Linked DNA regions of Homo sapiens. Changing the gene in region 1 together with any one later gene gives a genetic interaction. Each region holds a gene or a part of one and is shown in the gene's direction. Other genes may lie near its edges.

What was found.
Region 2: changes in TMEM165 (region 1) and PTAR1 are lethal when combined (synthetic lethality), as found in Homo sapiens cells (one study listed by BioGRID).
Region 3: changes in TMEM165 (region 1) and UBE4B are lethal when combined (synthetic lethality), as found in Homo sapiens cells (one study listed by BioGRID).
Region 4: changes in TMEM165 (region 1) and WDR62 are lethal when combined (synthetic lethality), as found in Homo sapiens cells (one study listed by BioGRID).

Annotation. Positions count from the first base shown.
Region 1 is NC_000004.12:55,392,132-55,398,959, forward strand, and holds the start of TMEM165 (putative divalent cation/proton antiporter TMEM165 precursor), read left to right. Parts: upstream 1-3,825; 5' UTR 3,826-4,058; coding exon 4,059-4,265; intron 4,266-4,987; exon of another isoform or gene 4,988-5,140; intron 5,141-6,828. UniProt on the Homo sapiens protein: Putative divalent cation:proton antiporter that exchanges calcium or manganese ions for protons across the Golgi membrane.
Region 2 is NC_000009.12:69,729,005-69,736,030, reverse strand, and holds part of PTAR1 (protein prenyltransferase alpha subunit repeat-containing protein 1), read left to right. Parts: intron 1-1,776; coding exon 1,777-1,881; intron 1,882-3,678; coding exon 3,679-3,892; intron 3,893-7,026.
Region 3 is NC_000001.11:10,098,955-10,105,980, forward strand, and holds part of UBE4B (ubiquitin conjugation factor E4 B), read left to right. Parts: intron 1-2,153; coding exon 2,154-2,241; exon of another isoform or gene 2,242-2,252; coding exon of another isoform or gene 2,253-2,270; intron 2,271-3,993; coding exon 3,994-4,138; intron 4,139-6,561; coding exon 6,562-6,790; intron 6,791-7,026. UniProt on the Homo sapiens protein: Ubiquitin-protein ligase that probably functions as an E3 ligase in conjunction with specific E1 and E2 ligases. May also function as an E4 ligase mediating the assembly of polyubiquitin chains on substrates ubiquitinated by another E3 ubiquitin ligase.
Region 4 is NC_000019.10:36,050,584-36,057,911, forward strand, and holds the start of WDR62 (WD repeat-containing protein 62), read left to right. Parts: upstream 1-4,313; 5' UTR 4,314-4,388; coding exon 4,389-4,565; intron 4,566-7,328. Other genes in the region: THAP8 (THAP domain-containing protein 8), read right to left, coding at 3,552-3,634. UniProt on the Homo sapiens protein: Required for cerebral cortical development. Plays a role in neuronal proliferation and migration.

The DNA of each region.
Region 1 (6,828 bases):
AAAGTTCCTTGACCTAAGTCTCAGATTTCTCATTTGCAAAAAGGAGGATAGAAATAATTCATGTAACACACTTAGTGCTCTGACTGGATCAGAATAGCATTCAATAAAGTTTTACTACTACTTTAATGATAACTATTCCCATTACCTTCTTATATAATCTACTAGGTGCTAGAAATATAAAGATAAAAGGCATAACCTTACCATCTAGAAGCTTAAGGCTTAGTAAGGGTGTTGGAATAAAAGACATTAAAATACAGTGCAGGCCCGGCTCAGTGGCTCACACCTGCAATCCCAGCACTTTGGGAGGCCGAGGTGGATGGATTACTTGAGGTCAGGAGTTCGAGACCTGCCTTGCTAACATGGTGAAACCCTGTCTCTACTAAAAATACAAAAATTAGCCAGGCATGGTGGCGGGCGCCTATAGTCCCAGCTACTTTGGAGGCTGCGGCAGGAGAATCGCTTGAACCTGGGAGGTAGAGGTTGCAGTGAGCTGAGATCGCACCACTGCACTCCAGCCTGGGTGACAGAGCGAGACTCCATCTCTACATAAATAAATAAAAAATAAAATATAGGTCAGGCACAGTGGCTCATGCCTATAATCCCAGCACTTTTGGGAGGCCAAGGCGGACGGATCACGAGGTCAGGAGATCAAGACCATCCTGGCTAACATGGTAAACCCGTCTCTACTAAAAATACAAAAAATTAGTGGGGCGTGTAGCACATGCCTGTAATCCCAGCTACTCAGGAGGCTGAGGCAGGAGAATTGCTTGAACCCGGGAGGCGGAGGCTGCAGTGAGCCGAGATCTTGCCACTGCATTCCAGCCTGGGCAACAGAGCGAGACTCCACCTCAAAAATAAATAAATAAATTAATTAAATAAAATACAATGTAATGCACATGTAGTAGGGTTTCTTTCCATAGGATGCCTGACAGTGGTTACATTTTAGTAAGACTATATCGGTGTAGGCTATGATTAAAAAATATATCATCTTGGAATTGTTGCGCCACCCACATCCTTATTGGGTAGGGGGTTAAATAAGTAGCTTCAGTTGTCCTTCAAGAAAGGTATCAGGAAAGCTCCTATAGTTTTTTAATTGCTTTTTTTAAGGGAGTTAGTCACCAATGAGGACTAGAAGGATGATGGCTCTAAACCCTCAAGGTGGTGAAAACTGGAGCCAGCCTCGATTTAGCACGCCTGAGCACGGATCCCAGGAGGTAGATGTGTGTGGAAACAGAAATACCAGATCCCATGAGAATCAGACACCTAGAGCCTAGCCTGGCAGCACCTGAAGGCCCTTGGATCAGGGTGACACTGGGGCAGGCTAGAAAGGTCTCACTCTGGCCCAGATTCTGATGCTTTGCTGACACCACTGTGCCAGTTCGCCAATGCTCTATCTCCATTTATGTTACATCTTCTGCCAAATAGCTTTGCTGCCTTGCCCCTGAACCACTGCATGCTCAGCAGCTGGTGCTTCAGCATCCTGCAGCTGTAGCCCAGAAGTCCTCACTGCCTCATATGTTGAGATGACTGAATTTGGCCAGGAGTCCTTCCTGTGAGAAAGCCCTGGAGTGTGGGCAGCCCATCCTAGAAAATAAACAAAGCAGCTTTCAGCAATGAGGGACACACAGCCAGTTTTGCTACATTCACCCTTCTGGCTCTGTCTTCAGCCTAAGCTGCTCCTTTCAGGTCCCTCCCTTGGGACCTCAAGCCTCCCTTTCAGGCCCCTTTTAAGCACAGCAAATCCTGTATGCATTAAGGGGAGGTAGTTGAAGTTTGGGCTTCTGGGTTTTATGTTATTACTGGCTTCTGAAAGCTCAAACATTTGCACTCCAGGGATGATAGTTGCATCTGTTAAATTTAGTGTAAAGCTGCCTCCTTACATATTTTAAGTTAGGCCTAAAGGTTTCCCCATACATGGTGAACTGTAGCCTAATTGGGTATGTAAACAGACTGTAACCTATTCTTGTACCAATCACAGAGTTCTGGCCAATCACAAGTGGCCAACTGTTCAAACCGTGTTCAAATAGGGCAAACCTGAGCTACAACCAATCCAGCTGTTTCTGTCCCTCAATTATGTTTTCTGTAAGTCACTTTATTTTTTCCGACCACTCGGCAAGACTGGAGCCTCTCTGAACTTACTTTGATTTGGGGTCTTTTTGATTTGCAGATCATTCTTTGGGTTCTTTGCTTGATTAAACGCTGTTAAGTTTAATTTGTCTAAGGTTTTTCTTTTAACACACCCCAAACTGTAAGTGGAGGCATCCTACTTACACAGTAATAGAAGAATGCATAAAGCAATAACATGAAGGAACAAGTGACAAATTCTGTAACGCCATGTGTTGGGGAAAAGTTCTGAGAGTGGAAGCTTGAATAGGTTTTGGAAGTATGAGTAGGAGTTTACAAGGAGAGAATGGAAGAAGGGGAATTACGGACAGAATAACATGGACGGAGGCCGGCCGCGGTGGCTCACACCTGTAATCCCAGCACTTTGAGAGGACGAGGCCGGCAGATCACCTGAGGTCTGGAGTTCGAGACCAGCCTGACCAACATGGAGAAACCCCATCTCTACTAAAATTACAAAGTTAGCCGCGTATGGTGGAGCATGCCTGTAATCCCAGCTACTCGGGAAGCTGAGGCAGGAGAATCTCTTGTACCCGGGAGGAGGAGGTTGCAGTGGGCCGAGATCTCACCATTGCACTCCATCCTGAGCAACAAGCGCGAAACTCCGTCTCAAAAACAAAAACAAAGAAAACAACAAAACAAAAAAACAGACGGAAATTTTATTATCCTGTGACAAACACTGTATCTTTGGTGAACTCAAAGTAGGTTTGCCCACTTTCCCACAGATTGTTTTGGTGGATTAATTTTTTGTTTCAGTTAGTGATAAACTTCCTTAGCTCTTTACTGAGTACAGGTTTACTGTATGTAAATATGTATAATATTAGATTAGTGCCTGGCACATGGTTAGCACTATCGATTTTTATTAGGGACTAGGTCTCAAACTTATGGTAATTAAGTAGCTCACTTTTTCTTTTGGGAAGACGTAAAAATATTCTCAAGCCTAACTCAAGACCATCCTTTCCTGTCTTCTAGTCTTGCCCACTCAAAGCTCCATCCTGCAAAAGTCTTAAACAGTCCATTTCAAAAGCCCAGCATTTTTAAAGGGTCTAAGGAATAGCACAAAACAAGATGCACCCAAAACGTCAAGGCCATACTGGACAAGGGCAACGTTAGCCATTTTTGGTCTGGGGTAATTATAGGCAGTATCTTAAAACAAGGCTTGAAAAATGTCATGTTATTTCCAAATCCCATTTCAGAACTTTAAAAAAAAAATAGCATTTTGAGCTCCTAAGAACGTTTTTGGCGGTAGGTGGCCACATGGAGGGTGGCACAGAGGCTCGGCGGGGGAGAGCGGAACAGAGCTGGGCGTGGCAGTGCCTGCGAGTCAGCGCCACGTAACCAGAGGCGCTCGCACTAATTTGACCTCTAAGAGAGACTAAGCGCAGGGAACAGCGGGTGCGGACATTACGGCGGAAGGCTCTGGAGGAAGCAGAAGTGAAGGACCTCGCAGTCCTGGGACGGTGGGGCACAGAGAGAGAAAGGGAGCCCCGGGCGCGGCGCGGTGAGGATGCGAGCAGAGGAAGGACACGCGGCGCCGGGTACCTGCCGGGAGCGCCGGATCCAATGGGAGGAGGGCCCGCGCCGCACCTCAACCTGGCAGAGGACGTCACGACGCCAAGGCGGTCGCCGGGCCAATGGGAGGCCGTCGCGGGCAGGGACGGGGCCGGGAGGAGTCGGGGCTGGGCCGCGCCGAGGCAGCTGGCTGACTCCAGTTTAGCCGCCGCCGGAGAGGACGGGCGCCGAGCCGGGGCTGCGGACTTCGGCCTGCCCCTCACCTCACTCCCGCTGCTTGCACCTCCCGGATGGTGCTGACTGCTCCCTAAGCGGCGGCGGCGGCGAGTCGTGAGGACGCGCCGCGGAGGCTGTTCGGGGTCGAGGCTTCCCGTCGCCGGCACTTCCTCTTGCGGCGCCCGTGCGCGGCCGGCCCGGCAGGCGGGATGGCGGCCGCGGCTCCAGGGAACGGCCGCGCATCGGCGCCCCGGCTGCTTCTGCTCTTTCTGGTTCCGCTGCTGTGGGCCCCGGCTGCGGTCCGGGCCGGCCCAGATGAAGACCTTAGCCACCGGAACAAAGAACCGCCGGCGCCGGCCCAGCAGCTGCAGCCGCAGCCTGTGGCTGTGCAGGGCCCCGAGCCGGCCCGGGTCGAGGTGAGCGGGCCGGGATGGGGCGAGCGAGGCTGCAGGGCCGGCTGCGCCGAGTACCAGGCTCCAGGCCTTTGAAAGCGCCGCACTCCGCCGGCCTCGGCTGGGGGAGGGGAGCCCGGCCCCTGCTCCCGGGGTGGAGGGCGGTCGGCTGCGCTGTTTTCCGGTGAGGCCTGGTCTTGCCCGCTCCTTTAGGGAAAGGGAGAGGGAGAGTCCAAGAGGAGCCCGCTATAAACGTTGATCTCCGGAGGGCCAAGATGCTGCTCCGGGATGGGCGTTTTATTGATCAGATGTGTCTTAGAGTAGCTAGAAAGACTCATCCCTACCAAAAAGTTTTTAACAGAAGGCTGCTAGGAGGCTTTTTGTATTCCCTGAGGATCATCACATCGGCCATTTCATTGTTGAAATAGCTTATGCCAAACTGCTTACCCAAATTCAACTTGGCACTGCCTGTGCTTTTTGCCAAATATGGATTATGAACCATGACTCTCACTTTTTAAAAATGTGCTTTGGCTAGCAGGAAGTAGCCTTTAGGAACGCAGAGGAATTAGTCTCCGGCAGTACAGCGTGCTGCAGCGATGTGGGATGCCAAAACTACATTTATAAGTAAAACAGAATCCTGTATTTTGTCCTTCCCTGAATAGATACTAGAAATCAACTTTTTAATCTGTTAATAGAATTAGTCCTTAGTCACTTGGCAGCGTTTTAACATTTCTCCCTTCTCCCAGTCGTGGGCTTTGTCGTCATTTCCAGTATCTGCTCCCTGAATCCCGGCCAGTGTGGCACTCAAACCCCCACTCCCACCCAGGCCACATCCAGCCCATCTCCACGTAACTAATCTTCCCGAACATTGAATTCTGCCATCTTGTCAGAAGTCGTCGGTGAGTTGCCTCCACTAATTTCAGTCCAGCCTTTTTAGGAGAGTGATGTTCAGGTTTCTTCTGATCTGGCTCCAGCTCACCTCCAGGCTTTTTAGCCACCGCTTTCTTGCTCATATGCTAAAGGGATATGCTCATCTGCAAAAAAGAATGTGCTTCAAGAGCCCTTTGGGACAGGCTTTGTGCTCTCTTGCCAGTTCCTCCCTAACACAAGACCTTTTCAAAGAAAAAAAAAAAAAGACCTGGAGTTTGAAGCCACGGATCAACTCTTCCCACCTTGGAGAACCAGCAGATACCTACTCTCTGTGAAGACTTCCCTAAAATTTCTTGGTTAAGGGTGATTTATCTGACCCTTTCCTTTCCTTTCCTTTCCTCTCCTTTCTCCTTTTTCCTTTCCTCTCCTTTCTCCTTTTTCCTTTCCATTCCTTTCATTTCTCCTTTCCTTTCCTTTTTCCTTTCCTTTCTCCCTTCCTTTCCTTTTTCCTTTTTCTTTGTTGAGACAGGGTCTCGCTCTGTCGCCCAGGCTGGAGTGCAGTGGCCCCGTCTTGGCTCACTGCAACCTCTAATTGATCCTCCCACCTCAGCCTCCTGAGTGGCTGGGACTGCATGCGTGTGCTGACACGCCCGGCTAATTTTTGTTTATTTTTTTTTTTTTTGAGAGAGGAGGTCTCACTATGTTGCCGAGTCTAGTCTCAAACTCCTGGGCTCAAGCGCTTCTCCGGCCTTGGCCTCCCAAGTGCTGGTGAGCTCTCACACCGGTGCATTGTTTTCGTGTTTCATGTTTTCGTTACATGTTACTTTCTTAGGCTTTTCCAATTTTCTGTTGTTTTTCTGTGTAAGACCGTAGGATAGAACTTTCTGAGAGACTGATCTTGGTTTCACTAAGCAAGAACATTTGTAAGAATCAGTGCTGTCCCAGATGTAGTAATCGCTATTGAGAAATAATGAAGTTCCCCTTACTGGAAGTACTCAGGAAGAAGTTGAATAACTAACTGCCTATGAGGAGATTCTGATATGGGAGGGAATCTGGGAGATAAAGTTACTGGGAAGTGAAGATTCTGGGAGCCGATTTAATCCTCACAACAGCACGTTAAACAGGTAGAGGAGGTTTGTAAGGAATAGTGGTTTAATATCACAGAGCTAGAAGCTAGTTTCAGCAGAACCAGAATTAGAATCTGGACTTCTGTGCCTTACTAAGTTTTATTAGCATTCATTGTGTCTTACTCTTTTGACTTATTTAATTCACTAATGGATTTTAATGGTTTATTGGATTGTATGCTGGTGCAGTTCTTTGATCTTGAGCCTAGCTTTCTCTTTCTCCTTTTTTGGGAACTTTATTGTGTATGTTGTGGCATGTTTACACACACATCTTGCTGCCTTGGGTTCTTGCAAGTTGTGTGCGTGTTTTATCTGCCCCTACTAGCTTTTAGGTGTCTTGAGAGCATGACTCTGGCTTACTCATCTGTCTATTCCAGAAGACCTTGTCTGTTCTTGGCATTTATTAACTAATTTTCTAAGACTGGGTTGAAGTAGTTGCATGTCAAGTTTATATCAGCTGTTAAATACCTTTCTGGAAAAACTGGCTGTAAAATAAACTCAACCAGGAAAAAAAAAAAAAAACAACAACCCGATTTTTAATAGTGTCTATCCAACCTTTTTTTTTTAAGTTGCAAGGGATCCACCAGATGGAA
Region 2 (7,026 bases), on another chromosome or scaffold:
ACTGATTTCAGAAGAAAAATAATCCAAGACTGCAAAAGCAATTGGCTGTTGCAAGAAAAAAATATATATTTTATATATATATTATATATATATAATGACAAATTGGTTTCCTGAACATTGAAAGGAAAATAGTTGTTTTCTTTATCAAATAAAACTTTATAAATAGTATGTCACTGTTGGAAAGAAAATGTATTGTGGTATTTAGGAATTAAGTCCGTCTAAGTAGATATGGTATAAGAGCTGGATTCTGGTTTTCTCTGGCTTAAACTTCTCTAAAATAAATGAATAATCAGCCCTACACAGGAAGGACATTTTAAGATAAATAATAACAAATGATCTGATTTTATTATAAAATTATAGATACATTGAGAATTCAGTGAGAGTGTAATATCAGCACTTATCAAAAACTTACCTGAGAAATTAAATGTAAATTGTATTTACCTGAGAAACAGGTATAGAAAGCTCTTGCATGACATTCTTTATATAGTTGGCCCTCTGTATCTGTAGGTTCTGCATCCATGGATTCAACCAACCGCAGATAGAAAATATTTGGGGAAAAAATTGCTTTCTGTAGCGAACATGTTCAGACTTTGTTTTCCTATCATTAGTCCCTGAATAATGTAACAACTATTTATATAGCATTTACATTGTATTAGGTATTATAAGTAATCTAGAGATGATATGAAGTATATGGGAGGATGTGTGTAGGTTATATGGCAACACATTTTATATCAAGGACTTGAGCATTCGCAGATTTTGGTATCCTTGGGAGGTCCTGAACCAAGCCCCCACAAGATACCAAGGGACAACTGATTGCATTGAAGCTTTGGTTGGGCTTGAACAGTTTTAAAAACAACCAAAACATTACATTGCTATTACTTCTGCTGCTTATATTAATATTTTAAAAAGGAATGGCCTCGTATATCAAGGGTCATGTAAGTATTTTACCTTGTTAATAGCTCTTTTGGAAACTTATCCAAAGTAAGAATACAAAAGAAAGAAGTTATAAGCACAAAGCTTCCCCTGCCCAGATTTGTTTTAAAATAACAAAAAGTTTGACGCAACCTAAATGTCTAACAAGAAGGGAAAAGCATAGCTTCTAAATGAAAACTAATTTGATCATTTAAAATGTTCATTACAAAGATTATATAGAATCATGGGGAAATTCTTAAGATATAATGAGAGCAGGATGTAAAATTATATGTTAAAATGTATGTGTGATAGGGAAAAGTAGAAGGGAAAATTCAAAAATAAAAAATAGTAATTTGGTTAGAATAGTGATTCCATGAATGATTTTTTTTTCCCTTACATCTCAACCATATTGTGTTTGTTGTATGTGTGGTTTTGTAATGAAATAGACCATGTCAAGTCCTATTTAGGAAACTAGACCAATTTTGGCTGGTATTGGATTGGCCCTATAGGTACGATATCAGGTCTCACAACTTTTGGAAATGAGATAGGCCAGAAAACCCCATTTACCCTCACGCAAATAGTTAAGATTTAAAAATCGTTAAAATCTGTTGATTTAAGAGCTTCTCTTTCTGCTTATTAGTTTGTTATATTGGGATTATGAGAATACATTCTTGATTACTGCATGTCACATTTATGAGTGTTTTATATCCCAGAGTGGCTTGGGCTTTTTTTCTTTCTTTTTTTGTTTTAAAATTCTTAGACATTCGCTTCACAATGAGATTATATTAAAAGCCATGTAGAACCTTTGGATATAAGGATAAAGTAATGTTTAATTTTTTTTTTTTTTTTTTTTTTTTTTTACAGGAAAGAGCTGATCCTCTCTGGCACTTTAAATCCAATTAAGGATTTACATCTGGGAAAACTCGCCTTAACCAAGTTTCCAAAGAGTCCAGAAACATGGATTCACAGGTGTGGTTAATTTACAACATAGTACTCTTACTTAGGATTCAGACTGGCTGGAGAAAGAAACATGACATGTGAGAGGCAAGGTTACTTATTGGTTCCAGAGCATGAATTCTGAAGTCAGGTTACCTACATTTAAATCTAGGAGCTATATAACTTGCTACCTAAGTGTTCATGGGAAATTACTTAACTCACCAAGCCTCAGTTTTCTCATTTGTAAAATGAGAATAATAATTACACCTGTCTCATATAGTTAACAGTCAAGTTTACGTGAGTTAATGCATGTAACACTCCCACAGTGCCTGGCACATATTAAATACTCAATAAATGTTAGCTATTATTAACTCTTTGAAGCAGTTGTGGGCATTGCATTTATAGATACTCAACTGTAATGAGCAATATGGATTTTAAAAGCATTTGGTTGTTTTCCTGGTAAAGATGTTGGTGGTGATGGTTGTGGTTATTAAAATTAACTTACAGAGAAAGCTGAGGGCAGCTGAAGCGAATGCTGTGTAGGCTGAGCTAAAGTTGCTAAAATCCATACATACAAAGAACATTTTTAGGTTAAAAGCATGGGACAGATAGCCAGAATGCACTTTAGGACTCTCAAAATCCTGGCCACCTGGAACCATCTTCCTCTTGGACCCTGTGTAACTACTCTTATTTGACCAAAATGGGATGGTGTGGGCTTGCTAGTCAGGACCAATGAAGAAGTCACTCTGAAATTCTCAGTTTATTAAGCCACTCTAATTTTTCTTAAATCGTGGGCATTTTTAGGATCTTATGTCCGTTCCAGGTGTCTTAGTGGTAATCGTGCCTTTAGTTAACATTGCAGGTCAGCTTCTTCCAAACCACATAGTCAGTTATATTTTCTTCATCACCAGAAATTGAGATAGTATACCACAGAAGGGTATATGACTGTGTGTATGGGGGTTTGGAAAGGGATGGTGGCAGGGGAAAGGAACTGTTAAATATGCATCCATCAGTTTGGCTTGTCTAATTTTTTTTATCAAGCAATATTTTGTTGTTAAATAAGAAATTCCATTATTTTAAAATGACAAAGTGAGTTTTCTTACTTAATTTCCTGTACCTTTGGGTTTGAAATCTTTAGTCTAAAAAATGCTTTTATATAAGTAAATTACTGGTACAAAGTAAACACATTAAGTAGCTCGAAACACTATTTAGTGTTTTTTATGTAAATACATGTTAATGCAAATCTTAAACAGACAAAGGGAGAATTTGTGGATAAGGATATTTTGACACCTTCTTAATGGTTTAATGAATTATATTTGTTACCTTCCAGATTTTATGCTATAATACAGAATTTTGCTGAATGAAAGCTATCAGAATGCAGCTTCTTGTTTGCAAACAAATGCACATAGGGTGAGGCATGCATATATACTTAAAGATGTGAATCATGACTCCTTATAATATTTATCAGCCATTAATTTATGACCTCTCACCACGACCACACACACACACACCAATTGCCTTTACATTTCCTGGCCAAGTGGAGTTTTGGGATTGTCATTTTAGAAGTAATGACATTCTCTGTATTACAGATTTTAAAGTTTTTTTTTTTTCCTGTTTATCCATTTTCCACCCTTCATCCATACTGCTAAATTAGTATCATCATAAACAACAAAACAACCCCTCCCCATCTCCAAAATACTAGACTTATAAACAGGTATTATTTTGCATTGTCTCTGAATGGAAATTAAATTAGGAACAATGAAAACTGGTTATTTTTCTCTCTGGTTTATGTTCTTTCTGTGTTCTCTTTCCCACATGCTGCCTTAACAGGCGATGGGTGCTACAACAGCTAATTCAGGAAACCTCCTTGCCTTCCTTTGTGACCAAAGGAAACTTGGGAACAATTCCCACAGAAAGGGCACAGCGACTCATACAAGAAGAGATGGAGGTCTGTGGTGAAGCAGCAGGGAGATACCCAAGCAACTATAATGCTTGGTCCCATCGCATCTGGGTTTTACAGCACTTGGCCAAGCTAGATGTCAAGGTAGGAATATTACTGTCTCCTGGGCAGACTGCCTGTCTGCCCTTAAAATCTTCTGGTAGTAGTTCATTCTCAGAAGAGCTTTGAAGGAGTAGAGAAACTGATGGTCTGGCAACTTGAGAGAATCGCAACAGCTGCTACCTCTGGAGGAACCCTGTAATTAAATAAAAAGCTTGCATTCCCCACTAGTGCTGTTTTTGGCAGTCTTAAGGCTAGTGCATTGGTAAAGCAAGGCAGGTTTAACCAACTGAGGAAGATTGAGCATAACTCACTTTATCCTGAAACAGGAAGGGATTATTAAGCCTTATAGAACTGGAATTGCTATTTCTTGGTAGTGTTTGGTTATGTGACAATATACTAAGTCAGCTGGCTGTCTTTTCACACTCTCGTCCTCTGAAAAGGGGGAGAGGAGGGCAGGGATAGACAATCTCACCCAGGTGTTTTTAAAATTGGCTGAGCCTATAAATTACCTGGGGATTCCTAAGTTCCACTCCAAGCCTACTAAAGCAGAATGAGGGTGGATCTAGAGATCAGTATTTTCCACTGACTCAGGGTTATTTGAATGCAGAGCCAGTTTGGAAACTCTCACAGCCTAATCCTTTCAGTTTAGAAATGAGGAGATGGAGATTTCCAGAGAATTTTAATGGCTTAGACTTAGCTACAGTTGTACCACTTATTATTCATCAGAATGAGAGCCACATGTCCCTTTTGCTCCTTATATACTACGGTGTCTCAGTTTTTTCTTTTCTGATGGCGTCACAGTGCCATAAGAATCTAGGGTGCTCATCTAAAAAGCTTCTCAGGCTTGAGACAGTTAAAAGAGGTCAAGTTGAAGATTGAAGTGCCCCAGGTGATGCTTTCAGATAAGTGGGGAAGTGTTATGTAATTTTAACTTACCACCCTCTTCTTCCTACATCCCTCTTCCCATGCTCCCATTTCTCTCTTTGTTTCCTGGCCAGGGCAAATGGGAGACTTTTTACTTCCAGAGGATTTTAAGCCAATAATTCTGGAAGAGAAGCCTTCCCCATTCAGTTTACATGGCTTTGAGTTTCAGGAGGGGTGGCCGCCTAATGGAATAGAAAGAACCAAGGCTCAGAATCACATCAACCTAGGTTCAGATTTTGGCCCCACTACCTATATGTGGAAAGCAAGGTTTTATTGTTTTCATTTATAAAATAGGGACTCTACTGTCTGCCTCAGTGGATTATTGTGAGAGTTAATTGAGTTAATGGATGTAAATTACTGGGCATCTAATAGAGAGAGATTCACTCGATTTTAGTTCCTTTCTCTGTTCTCCAGAGATAGAAAATTGGCTACCAGTTTGCTTGATCAACTCCGTGCAATTTATTGATGAAAAAGTATAAAACCCTATCATACCCACCGACTGTCCTGTATACGCAGTAAAACAAAGTGTTTGCTCTCAACAAATTGAAAATCTAGTTGAGAAAGTAGACCAACAATTACAAAGCATCAGAATACAATGGGAGCACAGAAAAATCGTTCTTCATCTAGGATGCGCTCGTTGGAAATAGCTGCCGGGGGAAGGAAGATACATTGAGTTGGGAGGCATGATTACAAGTTGTTTGGTGGGTTGTCAGGGATATGGAGTGCTTGGTGGTCATCTCAGATCCATGACTTGATAGTGTGTGGGAAGAGGAAAGAGATATGGGGAGGATTGGGGATAAAAAGGAAGGCGGAGTCCAGGTTGACTGAGAGATCTTTGGAAATTTTTCTGCCATGATGTGGACCTTTACAAGTGGCATTTCCATAAAATCAGGAACAAGGGGCCAAAGTGAAATTTTTGGTTACTTGAGACCATCTGGTGGTAAAGATAACTCATTAATGGTGAGTTATAACTCATTAATGGTGAGCTCAGCTGCCAGGGTCCACTCCTGGGTTCAGATGTCATCATCCTTCCTTGACCCGCCCTTGGAGGAAGACTTACCATTCTTCCATTCACCACTTGCCACTGCAACATCTCTTGCTCTTGTTGTCAGTGAGGAGTCCTAAATTTGCAAAATCCCCTTTCTGTTGTTATAAGCCATTGGGCCCACCTAGAACATTTACTACTATGCTTTGTCTGTTACAGGAGGTAATCACAAAAATACCAGTAGTCTAAATCAGCTTAAAAATATATATGAAATGAGCCAGCATTTTTTAACTTAGGAAATTGAAAATGACTTTTTAAAGTGCTGGCATCGAGTATTAGTAAGAGTATGAAAATGAGCATTATTCAAATTGTTATAAGCTTACTGAAGGGCAACATGGCAGCACTTATCACACTTTTAAAAATAGGGTGTTATTTTTAAGAGTTCTGCTTCCAGGAATTCATCATAAAGAAATAATGGAAGATGAAGTATGGTAGAATGATTAGAAGCTTCACTCAGTGGTCATGCAGACCTGCTTTGCATTCTGGCTTTACCACCAATTTGCTGTGTAGCCTTGAGGAAGTTGCTTAGCCTCTTCAACCTTCAGTTTTCTCATCCGGAAAAGGAGGGTGACAATAATTCCCATCTCACTGAGTGATGCAAATTGAAAGGGAGGATTCATATAAAGTGGCTATCAAAGTGCCTTAATTAAGTGCTCAATAAACACTGGCTATTAAATATAGAAGTTTGATATATAAAAGTAGCATTTATAGTAGTGAAAAACTAGAAAAGCTGTAGCCCTTCAATAATGAGGGAATTGTTAGATTACAATCCATCACATTGGAATATTTTGTTATGACTAAAATGTATATTTTGGAAGATGATTTAAAGGAAAATATTCACAATAGGTTATATTAGGGTAGGCCTAATATTATTATTTATTTATTTATTTTTGAGACAGGGTTTTGCTCTGTCGCCCAGGCTGGAGTGCAGTGGCACAATCTCAGCTCACTGCAACCTCCGCTTCCCAGGTTCAAGCGATTCTCCTGCCTCAGCCTCCCAAGTAGCTGGGATTACAGGCACCCACTACCACGCCCAGCTAATTTTTATATTTTTAGTAGAGACGGGGTTTCGCCATGTTGGTCAGGCTGGTCTTGAACTCCTGACCTCAAGCAATCCACCTGCCTCTGCCTCCCAAAGTGCTGGGATTACAGGCATGAGCCACCACACCCAGCAGCCTAATATAATTTTTAATGTATTTATTAGCAT
Region 3 (7,026 bases), on another chromosome or scaffold:
TGGCTGGGCACAGTGGCTCACACCTGTAATCCCAGCACTTTTGGGAGGCCGAAGCAGACAGATCACTTGAGGTCAGGAGTTCGAGACAAGCCTAGCCAACATGGTAAAACCCTGTTTCCACTAAAAATACAAAAAAAATTAGCCGGGCATGGTGGTGCGTGCCTGTAATCCCAGTTATTTGGGAGGCTGAGGCAGGAGAATTGCTTGAACCTGGGAGGCAGGGGTTGCAGTGAGCCAAGATTGCACCACTGCACTACAGCCTGGGTGACAGAGCAAGACTCTGTCTAAAAAAGAAAAAATTATTTACATGTAAACTTTCTATGTATAAATAAATAAGTTGCTTATAAGAAGTGTATATTTAAAATCAGTTGCATTCCTGTCTGCCAGCAACAAAAAGTTAGAAAACGTAATTTTTAAAAAGGTGCCATTCACAATTTCATTAAAAAGTATTAACATATGGTACCTAGGAATAAATTTAGCAAAAGAAGTATAAAATTTTTATAGAGAAAATTACTAAAGCTTATTGATAGACCTTAAAGAAGATCTTAATACTTGGAGAGTAATGAAAACTCAGTAATATATTACTTCTCCCCAAGTTGATCTCTAAGAGTGAAAAAAATTTTGGTCAAAATCCCGGGAGGGTTTTTAAGGAATTCCTCAGGCTGATTCCTAAGTATGTGTAGAAGAGGAAAGAGCCAAGGATAGCAAAACCTCTTAAAGGAGAAGAATAAAGTGGAGACATTGACCTAGCAGATATCAAGATTTGTGAAGTTTTAGTAATTAAGACAAAGTGGTATTGGCCAGGGACAGACAAATTGTCTAACAGAACAGTAATGAGTCTCCAGAAATAGACCCACTCGTTAATGAAAATTGGACACGTGACATAGGAGCTTTCATATTAATGTAAAAAGGATGATCTTTCCAGTAAATGGTGCTAGGGCAATTGTTCAATCGGGGATAAATGATATGTACTTAACCAGTTTTTATAATAAGACTTCAGTTGAGTTTTTTATTTTCTTAATTAAATTTTTTATTTTTATTTTTTATTTTTTTGAGATGGAGTCTCGCTCTGTCGCCCAGGCTGGAGTGCAGTGGCGCAGTCTTGGCTCACTGCGAGCTCTGCCTCCCGGGTTCAGGCCATTCTCCCGCCTCGGCCTCCTGAGTAGCTGGGCCTACAGGTGCCCACCACCATGCCCGGCTAATTTTTTGTATTTTTTAGTAGAGACGGGTTTCACCATGTTAGCCAGGATGGTCTCGATTTCCTGACCTTGTGATCCGCCCACCTCGGCCTCCCAAAGTGCTGGGATTACAGGTGTGAGCCATCGTGCCTGGCCTATTTTCTCAATTAAATTTTTAAAAATGTTTATTTAATTTTTTTTAGAGCCAGAGTCTTGCTATGCTGCCCAGGCTGGGATACAGTGGTTATTCACAGGCACAGTAATAGTGCATACAGCCTCAAACTTCTGGGCTAAAGTGATCCTCCAGCTTCAGCCTCCTAGGTAGCTCGGACCATAGGCGCATGCCAATATACCTGGCCTGGTTGAATTTTATGTCATTTTAAAATACTATATATAGGTAACCTACTTTAATGATATACTTTTATTTATTTATTTATTTGAGACGGAGTTTCGCTCTTGTTGCCCAGGCTGGAGTGCAATGGTGCGATCTCGGCTTACCGCAACCTCTGTGTCCTGAGTTCAAGTGATTCTGCTGCATCAGCCTGCCGAGTAGCTGGGATTACAGGCATGTGCCACCACGCCTGACTAATTTTATATTTTTAGTAGAGATGGGGTTTCTCCATGTTGGTCAGGCTGATCTCGAACTCCTGACCTCAGGTGATCCACCTGCCTTGGCCTCCCAAAGTGCTGGGATTACAGGCGTGAGCCACTGCACTCGGCCAATGATATACTTTTAAAAAGTAAGCCCAAGAAAATGACAACTTAGGAAAAATATTTCCAACATGTATAAGAGACAAATTGTTTAGATCCTAATTTATGAAGAACTCTTAAAAATTAATAAGAAAAAAGATGGACCATTATCATTTTCCTTTCCTGATTAACTGATATTTTAAAACATTTTCTCACCCAGCAGCTACAGTGACATTGTGCGGATTTATAAAAGGTAAAAGGCTTGTTTGTCTTTTGTACTTTAAGCATGTCCCAGGTGGATGTGGATTCAGGAATTGAAAACATGGAGGTTGATGAAAATGATCGAAGAGAAAAGCGGAGCCTCAGTGATAAGGTTGGTAAGCGATGAAGCCCTTGGTACAGGTAATAGAAATAAACACATTTCATGTCTTGTATCTGTAGAGTCTGTTAGATTGGGGCCACCCGAAATCAGGAAGTCCTAGGCAGGTGATTATTTTTATTCTTTTGAGGAAAAATGAATAACCTAGATTACCCTTATTCATGAAAGTGTAACTCAGTCCTTTGATCTGATAATATCCATCTGTTTTTGGTTCAGGGCCATGATTTTATCAGTAAATTTAGGTTGTAATAGGAACTAATTTAGAGCAAATTAGAATTCTTTCTGTTGGTCTTTTGCTTTTTTTTTTTTTTTTTTTTTTTTTTTTGAGACAGAGTCTCGCTCTGTCGCCCAGGCTGGAGTGCAGTGGTGCGATCTCGGCTCACTGCAAGCTCCGCCTCCCAGGTTCACACCATTCTCCTGCCTCAGCTTCCCAAGTAGCTGGGACTACAGGCGCCCGCCACCACGCCCAGCTAATTTTTTGTATTTTTAGTAGAGATGGGTTTTCACCGTGTTAGCCAGGATGGTCTTGATCTATTGACCTTATGATCCACCTGCCTTGGCTTCCCAAAGTGTGGGATTACAGGCGTGAGCCACTGCGCCTGGCCTGGTCTTTTGCTTTTAAGCAAGTAGATCATCACATCTTTAGCAGTATTCTGAGGAAAATGACTGGGAATTGAAGCAAGAATATGTAGAATCTAGTCGCAAGTAGAAGGTTTTGGAAAACATGAAGCCTTTATATTTGAATATCACCTGAGCTTAGTGCTCTGCATTTAGGGTGTGTGTGTGTGTGTGTGTGTGTGTATTAATATAGATAATTACATCACTTTCTGTTTAGTAAATTATTAGGAATCCTTTAGCAACACATGTTAATGATTATTGGAAGTTGCACTGTAAACAAAAATAAAGACAAACAAAGGAAAAAATAAGAAGTTGCACTGTAGCCTCCTAGTGGTGCAGTGCTTTATTTTGTATAGTTCTTTAATGTTTACAAAATTCTTTTTTATATGCTGTTTTATCTGTGGTGGTATGTAATGAGAAATGTTACAATTTTGAAAAATTCCTGGAGGAAAATTGGTCATGCACCTGGAGTGTTAACCTGGTCCTATGGAATTCAGAAAAGTAAATAGATAGGATATGTACATCCTCTGTCACATATTTTTCCTTGGTGACTTTTGATAATGACTTTGCTCTTTTTTTTTTTTTTTTTTTTTTTTTTTTTTTTTTTTTGAGACAGGGCCTCACTCTGTTGCCCAGGCTGGAGTGCAATGGCGTGATCTTGGTTCACCACAACCTCCGCCTCCTGGGTTCAAGCGATTCTCCTGCCTCAGCCTCCCAAGTAGCTCCGAGTAGCCAGGCCCGCAACCGCGCCTGGCTAATTTTTGTATTTTTAGTAGAGACAGGGTTTCACCATGTTGGCCAGGCTGGTCTTGAGCTCCTGACCTCAGGTGATCCACTGGCCTCGGCCTTCCAGAATGCTGGGATTACAGGTGTGAGCCACCACGCCCGGCCATCTTTGCTCTTTTATGCTCCCCATAGATTGTATTGTAAGCTCATGAGACTTAGATGTTGTAACTTTGATGTTATAGGAATAGGCTTACTTTTCCCCTAATCAGTGGGTGAATGGTTTCATGCATTTTTAAAATATCATCACTAATAATGAATTAAATCAGAATAACGTATTCCTATTGAAACACCTAACTCATACCTCTTATTTGAAATTAACCTGCAAATCTTCTTCTTCACCAGGAGCCTTCCTCGGGCCCTGAAGTGTCTGAAGAGCAGGCCTTACAGCTGGTCTGTAAGATCTTCCGTGTCTCTTGGAAGGACCGGGACAGAGATGTCATCTTTCTTTCTTCTCTTTCTGCACAGTTTAAGCAGAACCCAAAAGAAGGTAGGAATCTAGCTCAGCAGTCTTACTGCAGAGTACTCGACAAGAAAATAAGATGTGAGATCTTTGCCCTCTGTTATCCACATTCACTCCATCTTGCTCTTGGGTTGTATTTTTGATGACAGGGATACTTCTTGATGAGGACACAATTGTTTAGCCACTTTCTTCCCTTTCCACTGATCTTATCGATAACTTATTTTTCATTTCCATGATTTCTATAATACTATGTAAATAGGTTAATGGTCTCCATTTTCTCAGGGTTGAAGTTTTTCTCTTTGTAGTAAGAAGGTGCTTAGAGCATTACCTCCTCTTTATTTATTTATTTATTTATTTATTTATTTATTTATTTATTTATTTATTTTGAGATGGAATCTCACCCTATCACCAGGCTGGAGTGCAGTGGCATGATCTCAGCTGACTGCAACTTCTGCCTCCCGAGTTCAAGTGATTCTTCTGCCTCGGCCACTGGAGTAGCTGGGACTACAGGCGTGCACCACCACGCCCAGCTAATTTTTGTAGTTTTTTTTGTTTGTTTTGTTTTTGTTTTTTTTTTTTTTTTTGAGACAGAGTCTTGCTCTGGCACCAGGCTGGAGTGCAGTGGCGCAGTCTTGGCTCACTGCAACTCCCACCTCCTGGGTTCAAGCAATTCTCCAGCCTCAGCCTCCCGAGTTGGGATTACAGGCATGCGCCACCACACCCAGCTAATTCTTGTATTTTTAGTAGAGACAGGGTTTCACCATGTTGGCCAGGACGGTCTCGATCTCCTGATCTCGTGATCCGCCCGCCTTGGCCTCCCAAAGTGCTGGGATTACAGGCATGAGCCACCGTGCCTGGCCTCATTTTTGTAGTTTTAGTAGAGACAGGATTTCACCATGTTGGCCAGGATGGTCTCGATCTCTTGACCTCGTGATCTGCCTGCCTCGGCCTCCCAAAGTGCTGGGATTACAGGCTTGAGCCACCGAGCCTGGCCTTACCTCCTCTTATGAAGTATAGATATAGTGGGTGGTCTCCAGGGATCCTGAGAGAAGTGTTCTGTATGAGCTATACCTGCTTTAAGTGCCTATGAAGCCATGTATAGACGGTGGAATTGGTCTATTTGGTTAAATTGCTTAGCAAGATAGAACATAATGACATTTTGCTGTGTTTCTGATATTCCACTTTAAGAGGCCAAGCTTGTAACAAAATAATAAAACTCTTAGCAAGATATCAGCATCATAGGGCACTATCCTTTTTCTTTACAGTAGTCATTTGGAACGCAGAAGAGGTATGGGAGGTGTGCTGGAGTGGTTTTTTTGGCCTATCACTGGAATGTAACTTCCCTCATGGTAGGGATTTTTGTCTGTTTTACTCATTGATGTATCCCTAGAAGGATATCTTGCACAAAATAGTCCCTCAATAGATAGATTTTAAATGGATGCGTGAATATCAAGGAGATCACCTTTCTCTTTTCTATGCTGCCTATCTTCTGAGGAGGGAAAAAAAAAGTCCTTTGTATTTCTGGAGGATAGATAAGACTATTTCTGATTTTACTTATTAACTCTGCTAATGGAGCAGACCATGTATTTGAAACTCTGCTACTTGTTATTCTTATTATAAATCTTAAGATTCTCTGTCTTACACATGTAAGTGGCAAATCTGTCTTACACATGTAAGTGGCAATTTTAAATAACCAAATCAGATAAAATTTCCATGAGTTAAAACTTTTGTTAAAACAAGTGTCTTACACATGTTAAGTGGCAACTCTGTCTTACACATGTAAGTGGCAATTTTAAATAACCAAATCAGATAAAATTTCCATGAGTTAAAACTTTTGTTTAGTGGTATTTAAAATGTATCTAAAGACCAACAGTAAATCAACTGGGAGCTGCAAAGAATAAGAAGGAAGCTAGAATGTAGCATTTGCTCCTGAAAGCCACATGGTGACTAGATGTTGGACCCTTCATAAAATCTTTTGAACCTTGGACTTAATAGTTTTATTACTATCTATAAAACATATCTAGACTAAGAAATATTAACCCAGTTGCATTTGTAGTATAATAAAGTAACCTCTATAGTTGGGAGTAGCTTCTTTTTACAATTAATATACATCAGCGGTAACTCTCAATGACTGTACCCCAACTTTCTTTTTAATAAACTTTTAATTTTGGAATAGTTTCAGTTAGTGCAGGGAGTTCCTATATATACTTTACCCAGTTTCCCCTGACGTTAATATCTTATATAACCATGGTACATTTGTCAAAACTAAGAAATTACTACTAACTAAACACAAGGCTTTATTTAGGTTTTCCACTAATATCCTTTTACCATTCCAGAATCTAATCCAGGATACTGCATCGAACCATTTGGGGTCAGCTGGCTTATTCAAGGGCTGTGTAACCTGTGTTCGAACTGTGTGTAACCTGTTCTTTGTTCTGCCTTTCCAACAGTATTCTCCGATTTTAAGGACTTGATTGGCCAGATTTTAATGGAAGTGCTAATGATGTCCACTCAGACCAGAGATGAAAACCCATTTGCCAGTCTGACAGCCACATCACAGCCAATTGCTGCAGCAGCACGGTCACCAGACAGAAATCTCTTGCTAAACACTGGCTCCAATCCAGGAACAAGCCCCATGTTCTGCAGCGTGGCTTCCTTTGGTGCCAGCTCTTTGTCTAGGTCAGTGTGGTTCTCTTTGCACATCTTACTGGTAGTAAAATAACTGTGAACTACGTAGGAGAAGGGAATGTTTGTTGACAGTGTTAATCAGTGTCATACAGGGTATGGCATATATCATATTTGGGGAGGTGGATTTAGTCATTGGAAGTGGAATTCTCTTTTCTAGATTATTATTTTTTGGCTCTCTATGGTTAAGATATTGCTAGATGAAATTTTAGAAGCAGTTGGCTGTGTAT
Region 4 (7,328 bases), on another chromosome or scaffold:
TGGACTAGCGGTGAATGAAAAGGAAGGATCATGGGTAACTCCCAGGTCACGTACTCAGTTCCTCAATGTTTGATCCCTCACCTATCCATGAGCTCTGTCATGGCAGAAACAAGATCTGTCAGGATTCTTTGTGTCCAGCAGGGGCTTACTTGCTTCTCCAAGAAATACTCAAAAAGTTGCTGAATTAATCAATGTTGCCAGAGTCATACACAGGCTTAAAGTCCCTTTGGCCCTACACCAGGGTCCCTCAAAGGATCCGTGACACATGGACTGCTGGCTTTCCTGGAGAGCCCATCTGAAAGGCATTCACCAAATCCACCCAACGAATCTTTACTAAGAACCTACTATGTGCCAGGCAATATTCTAGAGGTTGGAGACACAAACAGGAGGAAAGAAGAAAGACAAAGAAAGACAAAACCTCTGGCTTGATTGAACTGATATTCTAGTGGGGGAGATAATGAATGAATACATCGAAAACGCAATATGCAGACAGTGATGTGTTAAAGAGAAAAATAAAGCAGGAGACAGAGAGAATCGTGTGTGTGTTTGGGTGTCAGTTACAGTTTTCCATAGGGTGGTAGTCATAAAGGCAAGAACTTTGAAATCAGAGGGAATCACACAGGCAAAGTCCCCAGGGCAGCAACATGCCTGCCACACTACAGGAACATGAAGTAGGCCAGTGTCACTGGTGTGAAGGGCAGGAGGAAAGAGATGAGGTCACACTGGTATCAGGGAACCAGCTCTGTAGGACTTTGCAGGCCTGCTTTCTACCTGTTCCAGCCTCACTTTATTTTTTATAGTGAGGTGGGAGTCACGGAAGGGATCTGGGCAGAGGAGGGCGCTGATCTGACTCAGGTGTTCACAGGCTCCCTCTGGCTGCAAGCAGGGAACAGACTGGGGGTGACGGTGGGAGCAGGGAGACCAATGAAGAGGCTGCTAAAATAGTCCAGTCTGGAGGTGATAATTGCCAGGAGCAGGATGCAGGAAGAGGAGAGGGTTAGAAGTGATCAAATTCTGGACAGTTTGTAAAGGGAGAGCCAACTGGATTTGCTGAGGGACTGGATGAGGAATGTGTCCTAGCCCACTTAGGCTAAGACCACCAGGGACAAACCTGTAGTCCAGCACTGTCAGATTTATTTACAATGGCAATGGGAGAGTCTGCACACTAGAGATACCATAGGCCAGGGGTCCCCAACTCCCAGGCTACAGACGGGTACCAGTCTATGGCCTGTTAGGAATAGGGCCACACAGCAGGAGGTGAGTGGCAGGCAGGTGAGCGAGTGAGAGAAGCTTCATCTGTATTTACAGCCACTCCCCACTGCTCGCATTACCACCTGAGTTCCGCCTCCTGTCAGAGCAGCAGCAGCATTAGATTCTCACAAGAGTGTGAATCCTATTCTGAACTGTGCATGTGAGAGATCTAGGTTGCCCTCCATTTTTTTTTTGTTTGTTTGTTTTTTGGGTTTTTTGGTTTTTTTTTTAGATGAAGTCTCACTCTGTCGCCAGGCTGGAGTGCAGTGGCGCAATCTCGGCTCACTGCAACCTCTGCCTCCTGGGTTCAAGTGATCCTCCTGCCTCAGCCTCCCAAGTAGCTGGGATTACAGGCATGTGCCACCACACCTAGCTAATTTTTGTATTTTTAGTAGAGACAAGGTTTCGCCATGTTGGCCAGGATGGTCTCGATCTCCTGACCTCGTGATCTGCCCGCCTTGGCCTCCCAAAGTGCTGGGATTACAGGCATGAGCCACTGTGCCTGGCCAGTTGCCCGCTTTTTATGAGAATCTAATGCCTGATGATCTGAAGCGTTTCATCCCAAAACCATTCCCCCAACCCTATCCCATCCGTGGAAAAACTGTCTTCCACAAAACCAGTCCCTGGTGCCATAAGGGTTGGGGACCACTGCCATAGGCCCTATGGGCCTTTGTTTTGTGAGGGAGTCTCAACAAACAGAGTTATTTTTTAGGTGAAATGTAAACTAAGCAGTGTTCAGATTGCCTCAAAGCAAATCAGAACTGTGTGTAAAGGGATCAATATCAGGTCCGGATGGTGAAGTGGGCCCAGGGTTTGTCTTCTCAGATGCAATAAAGTTTACATAGATGTAGAATATTGTGTCCTTATCTGAAGCTCCAAACCTGGATTGTAAATAGGGACTGCTTTTCTGTGTCAAAGTGACTTAGCTCCTCCAAGCAAAAGTGAGATGTTTCATTCTTACTTGATGTGATTTCAAACAGCAAAGTTTGTGATCATCTCTGACTTTAGACAACCAAAGTTTCCTACTAAGAAAGCAGTAGACACTCAAAGGATGGGAATTCTGCCACTTTACATCTGCAGTATGTCCAAGAGAAATATTTTTTCCTGGCTGGGTGCAGTGGCTCACGCCTGTAATCCAAGCACTTTGGGAGGCCGAGGCAGGAGGACTGCTTGTGCCCAGGAGTTTGAGACTAGACTGGACAACATAGGGTGATCCCATCTCTCTCTTTAAAAACAAAATTTTTTTTTTTGAGACGGAGTCTCACTCTTGTTGCCCACGCTGGATTGCAGTGGCCTCATCTTGGCTCACTGCAACCTCTGCCTTCTGGATTCATGCGATTCTCCTGCCTCAGCCCACGGAGTAGCTGGAATTACACGCATGAGCCACCACGCCCATCTAATTTTTGTATTTTTAGTAGACACGGGGTTTCACCATGTTGGCCAGGCTGGTCTCGAACTCCTGACCTCAGGTGATCTGCCCGCCTCGGCCTCCCAAAGTGCTGGGATTACAGGCGTGAGCCACCAAGCCTGGCAAAAAAAAAAAAAAAAAAAAAAAAAAAAAAAAATTTAAATTATCCAGGCATGGTGGCGCGTGCCTCTGGTCCCAGCTACTTGGTAGGGTGAGGTGGGAGGATCACTTGAGCCCGGGAGGTCGAGGTTGCAGTGAGCTGTGATCGTTCCACTGCATTCCAGCCTGGGCGACAAAGCGATCTTGTCTCAAAAAAAAAAAAAAAAAAAAGCAAAGAAATGTTTTTTCCTAGTAATTCTTCCACCAACTGGCTTATGTCAGCCAGATAAATAAGGAGACAGATCTTTTACAGTCGAAGCTAATTCTGACTTTCCCAAGTATGACGAAAGAGGTAAGGATGACATTTTTTAAACCTAAGCAACAAGAAGAATGAAGCACGCTACTAAGATAAGACAGACTGGAAGGTTTTGGGGAGACACGATCGCAAGCTCAGTTTCGGATGCTCTGAGTTTCAGATGGCTCAAATGCGTGGGGAGGGCAAGTGGGCATCTGCAGGCTCTCTAACAGCCTGCACCGACTTCACTTCTTACATCCCTTTCACTCTTCGGCTCGCTTCGCTCGCTATCTGTAGTCAATCGTCTACTCCTGTTTCCCACGCCTGCACCTTTGTATGTGCAATGGACACTGCCAGGAAGGCCATCTCCTCATGGTTTAACCCCACTTCCTAACACCCTCAAGCAAGACCAGAAGCCCCGCACAGCAGCACTAATGCTCGGGCCCCACCCCTCTCAGGGTCCCGCCTCCCTCAAGCCCCGCCCCGCGCTGCGCTCACTTGTAGAAGCTCACAGGGCGGTTGTCTGCACCCAGGCGGCCCGCAGTGTTGGAGCAGTTCGGCGCCCTGCAGTACTTGGGCATGGCTATCCAGCCCCCGCTGAGTTTTGCCGGGTCAGCGGCTGCACTTTGGTTCTCGCGGAGCGCCGCCTAACCCCGCCCCACCCGCGCTCGCCGCCTGCCTCACGTGACGTCCGTGGAGTCTCGTCACGTACCGGGGAGAGAGCTGAGAGCGCCTGCCTACTAGGCGCCCCTCCACAGTGCCACAGTCCCGCCCTCGTCACGTGACGAATGGGCCATAGCGAGTACTGTGCACCTGCGCAAAGCCGGCCCTTCGTCACCCCGACTTTCATCACGTGTTGGGGGGAAGGGCGGCGTCACGGCGTTTCTGAGCCTGCGCCAACCAAATCAACTGGCTAGTCAATCTCTTACGGCTCCACCCTACGCCTACATCCGGGCAACCGTTGGGGCGCACATAGTTCCTCTAGGTGGCGGCAAAAACCGAGGTGAGGCGGCCGTGGCCTTAGCCTCGTAAAAATTAAAACCTGTATGTTTCAGCGAATAATGAAAACGCAGTCTGGATGAAAGACCCCATGACGCTTAATCAGGCATCCAGTACACTGGCTGTGGCCCCGCCCCGCCAGGCACTCGCTCCGCCTCTTCGCCCCCATTGGTTCTAAGCGCCGCCCGGCATCCCTGCGATTGGCTAGGCCGGGCCCGTCGCGTCCAATAGGCGGTGGCGCCGGCTTTCCCGCGGCTGTTCGCTGTTCCAGTGGGTCGTGGCGGTGGCGGCAGCGGCGGTTAGGGGATGTAACGGTCGCCCGCCTCCGGCGTGACGATGGCGGCCGTAGGGTCCGGAGGCTATGCGCGGAACGATGCAGGGGAGAAGCTGCCCTCTGTCATGGCGGGAGTTCCGGCGCGGAGGGGCCAGTCCTCCCCGCCCCCCGCCCCACCAATCTGCCTACGGCGGCGGACGCGACTCTCGACGGCCTCCGAGGAGACGGTGCAGAACCGGGTGAGAAGCTGCTCGCCATGTCTACCCCAGTTCCAGGCTTCCTAGGTTTCCCCTAGTCCCGTCCTGAGAACTGTGGCCCCGACATCAGCCCCCGGCCAGTCCCCTCAGGTTGTTCCCTGCCATGCCTCGTCCCCTAACCCCCGCCCCTTTAGCCACGGCCCCTCCCACTTTCTCCTCGCTGCTTTCCCGGCTCCACCCTCAGCGTTGGAGCAATTCGGGGGTTCCTCGCTGGTTCCCACCCGTGGAAATGCATTTTGCTTCTGTAAATCACAGCCTAGTCCTGCTATATTTTAACCCCCGTTCTATCGCCTTTAGACGTCACGATCATAGCTCACTGCAGCCTCACTGCCCTGGCCCCCGCTGAGTCATTAAGGTCCCTTCGAGGGTTCGGTCCAGAGTGTTACCTGCCCCAACTCTTCCTCGCTTCTACCCCGCCTTCTCTCACCTTCTGCGATCTCTATCCTTTTTCCTCACCAAGGTGGGATTCTTAATCCATATTGTCACTCAAAACTATGAGAAAGACGTGAGAAGTTATTTATAAAATCTCTGCAGTGCTGCCTGGGGAGGAGGGCGTACAGAACAGTTCCCTAAATCCTGAGACAGAAAAATGGAAAGAAATGATTTCACAGTAGGTAGAAGGAATTCCATTAGCACAGCGGCAATTAAAAAAATTGTTTTCCAGCTGTGTAGGCACAAAATCTGTTTTTATAAAATGGAGATGATAAGAACCATACTACTGGTAGGGCGCGGTAGCTCACGTCTGTAATCCCAGCACTTTGGGAGGCCAAGGTGGGCTGTTCACCTGAGATCAGTTCAAGACCAGCCTGGCCAACATGGTGAAACCCGTCTCTACAAAAAGTAGAAAAATTAGCCCGGCATGCTAGCGCGCGCCTGTAATCCCAGCTACTCAGGAGGCTGAGGCGGGAGAAATCGCTTGAACCTGGGAGGCGGAGGTTGCAGTGAGCTGAGGTCATGCCACTGCACTCCAGCCTGGGCGACAGAGTGAGACTCTGTCTCAAAATAAATAAATAAATAAATTATACTATTGCATTGGAGGGAAATGAAATTTTAATTGTGATCTTCTTGGCACGGAGTCCAGATAAAGGGAGGATACCTGGTAGCTGCTGGTGGAGCTTGTTCCTGCCCCATGACTTTCTCCTGCACTGTGATTATACCGCCCACTCCTGGCTACAGGGCTCTGGCTGTACCTCCCATGTGCTCTCTGTCACCAAGGTTCAGTCACACTGGCCTGCTTTTGGTTTTCCTGAGGCTCCATATTCTTTTCTGCCTCCTGGCCTTTGTGATTGGTGAGTCCTCAGCCTGGGCTTTTTGCTGCAATCTGCCTGTCTGGCTCCTTCCCATCCTTCAAGTCTCAGCCTGAATGTCGCTATCTTGAAAGGCCTTCTCGAACCCCATTCTAAAGCAAACAGCCACCTTCATCTGTCACCCAGCACCCTATACTTCATAGCCTTTATCTTATATGTTCCTGAAAGTGCCCTTTGAGCTATTAAACTACATATAACAATAGCAAATTCAGAGAGGCGTTATAGCAAAGTGGCTAAGAGCACAGACTGCTGCTGATGGTATGGTTGGACCCAGGCAGCCTGAGCTTAAACTTTAGTCCTGTTCTTCCTGGCAGGTTATGAACTTCGCTTTTTCTTTTCTTTTTTTTTTTTTTTGAGATGGGGTCTTACTCTGTCATCCAGGCTGTAGTGCACTGGGTTGATCTCGGCTCACTGCAGTCTCAGCCTCCCTGGGCTCAGGTGATCTTCCTGCCTCAAGCCTCCTGAGTAGCTGGGACTGCAGGCGCATGCCACCATACCTGACTAATTTTTTTGTGTTTTCTGGTAGAGACAGGGTCTCGCCGTGTTGGCCAGGCTGGTCTTGAATTACTGAGCTCAAGCGATCTGCCTGCCTCGGCCTCCCAAAGTGCTAGGATTACAGGCGTGAGCTACTGTGCCCCGCCAAGTTATGAACTTATCTGTGCCTCAGTTTTCTTATCTGTAAAATGAGAATAATGATGTAGAAATCTCTCATAGGGTATTTGTGAGGATTCAATGAGGTTACATATCCTAGGCACTTAGAACAACACTGGCATATGGCAAGTACTCTATTCATGTTAGCTAATACTGATATTATGACTGTGTATTTGGGGTAATATTTATTTATTTTTTTTGTTTGGCAGCACAGAGTTGATCTGTCTTGCAAAGACCTAGTCTAAAAGTGACCATTCATACCAGGGCCCAGTAATGCTGATCGACAGATAAGACAACATGAGTGCCATGGCTTGGTTGTTTGTGTTGGAATCCTGGCACTACCCCTTCCTGGATGGGTAACCCCTCTTGGCCTCTGTTTCCTCAACTGTTTTGTTCCTTTTTTTTTTTGAGACAGAGTCTCACTCTGTCGCCCAGGATGGAGTGCAATGGTGCCATCTCAGCTCACTGCAACCTCCGCCTCCTGGGTTCAAGCGATTTTACTGCCTCAGCCTCCTGAGTGCCTGGGATTATAGGCATGGGCCACCACACCTGACTAATTTTTTTGTATTTTTAGTAGAGACAGGGTTTCGCCATCTTGGCCAGGATGGTCTCAAACTCTTGACTGAGCCACCACACCCAGCCTTGTTTAAATTTTAAATATTACTGTTCATGTGGTTTTTTACTCGTTGAAACCGCTCAAATTTCTGGACTGTGAATCTGATGTGGGGAAACTGTCTACCTTTGGTCACTACTGTGTCTCTCCTGTACAGCCCAAAGTGCTAGCTTT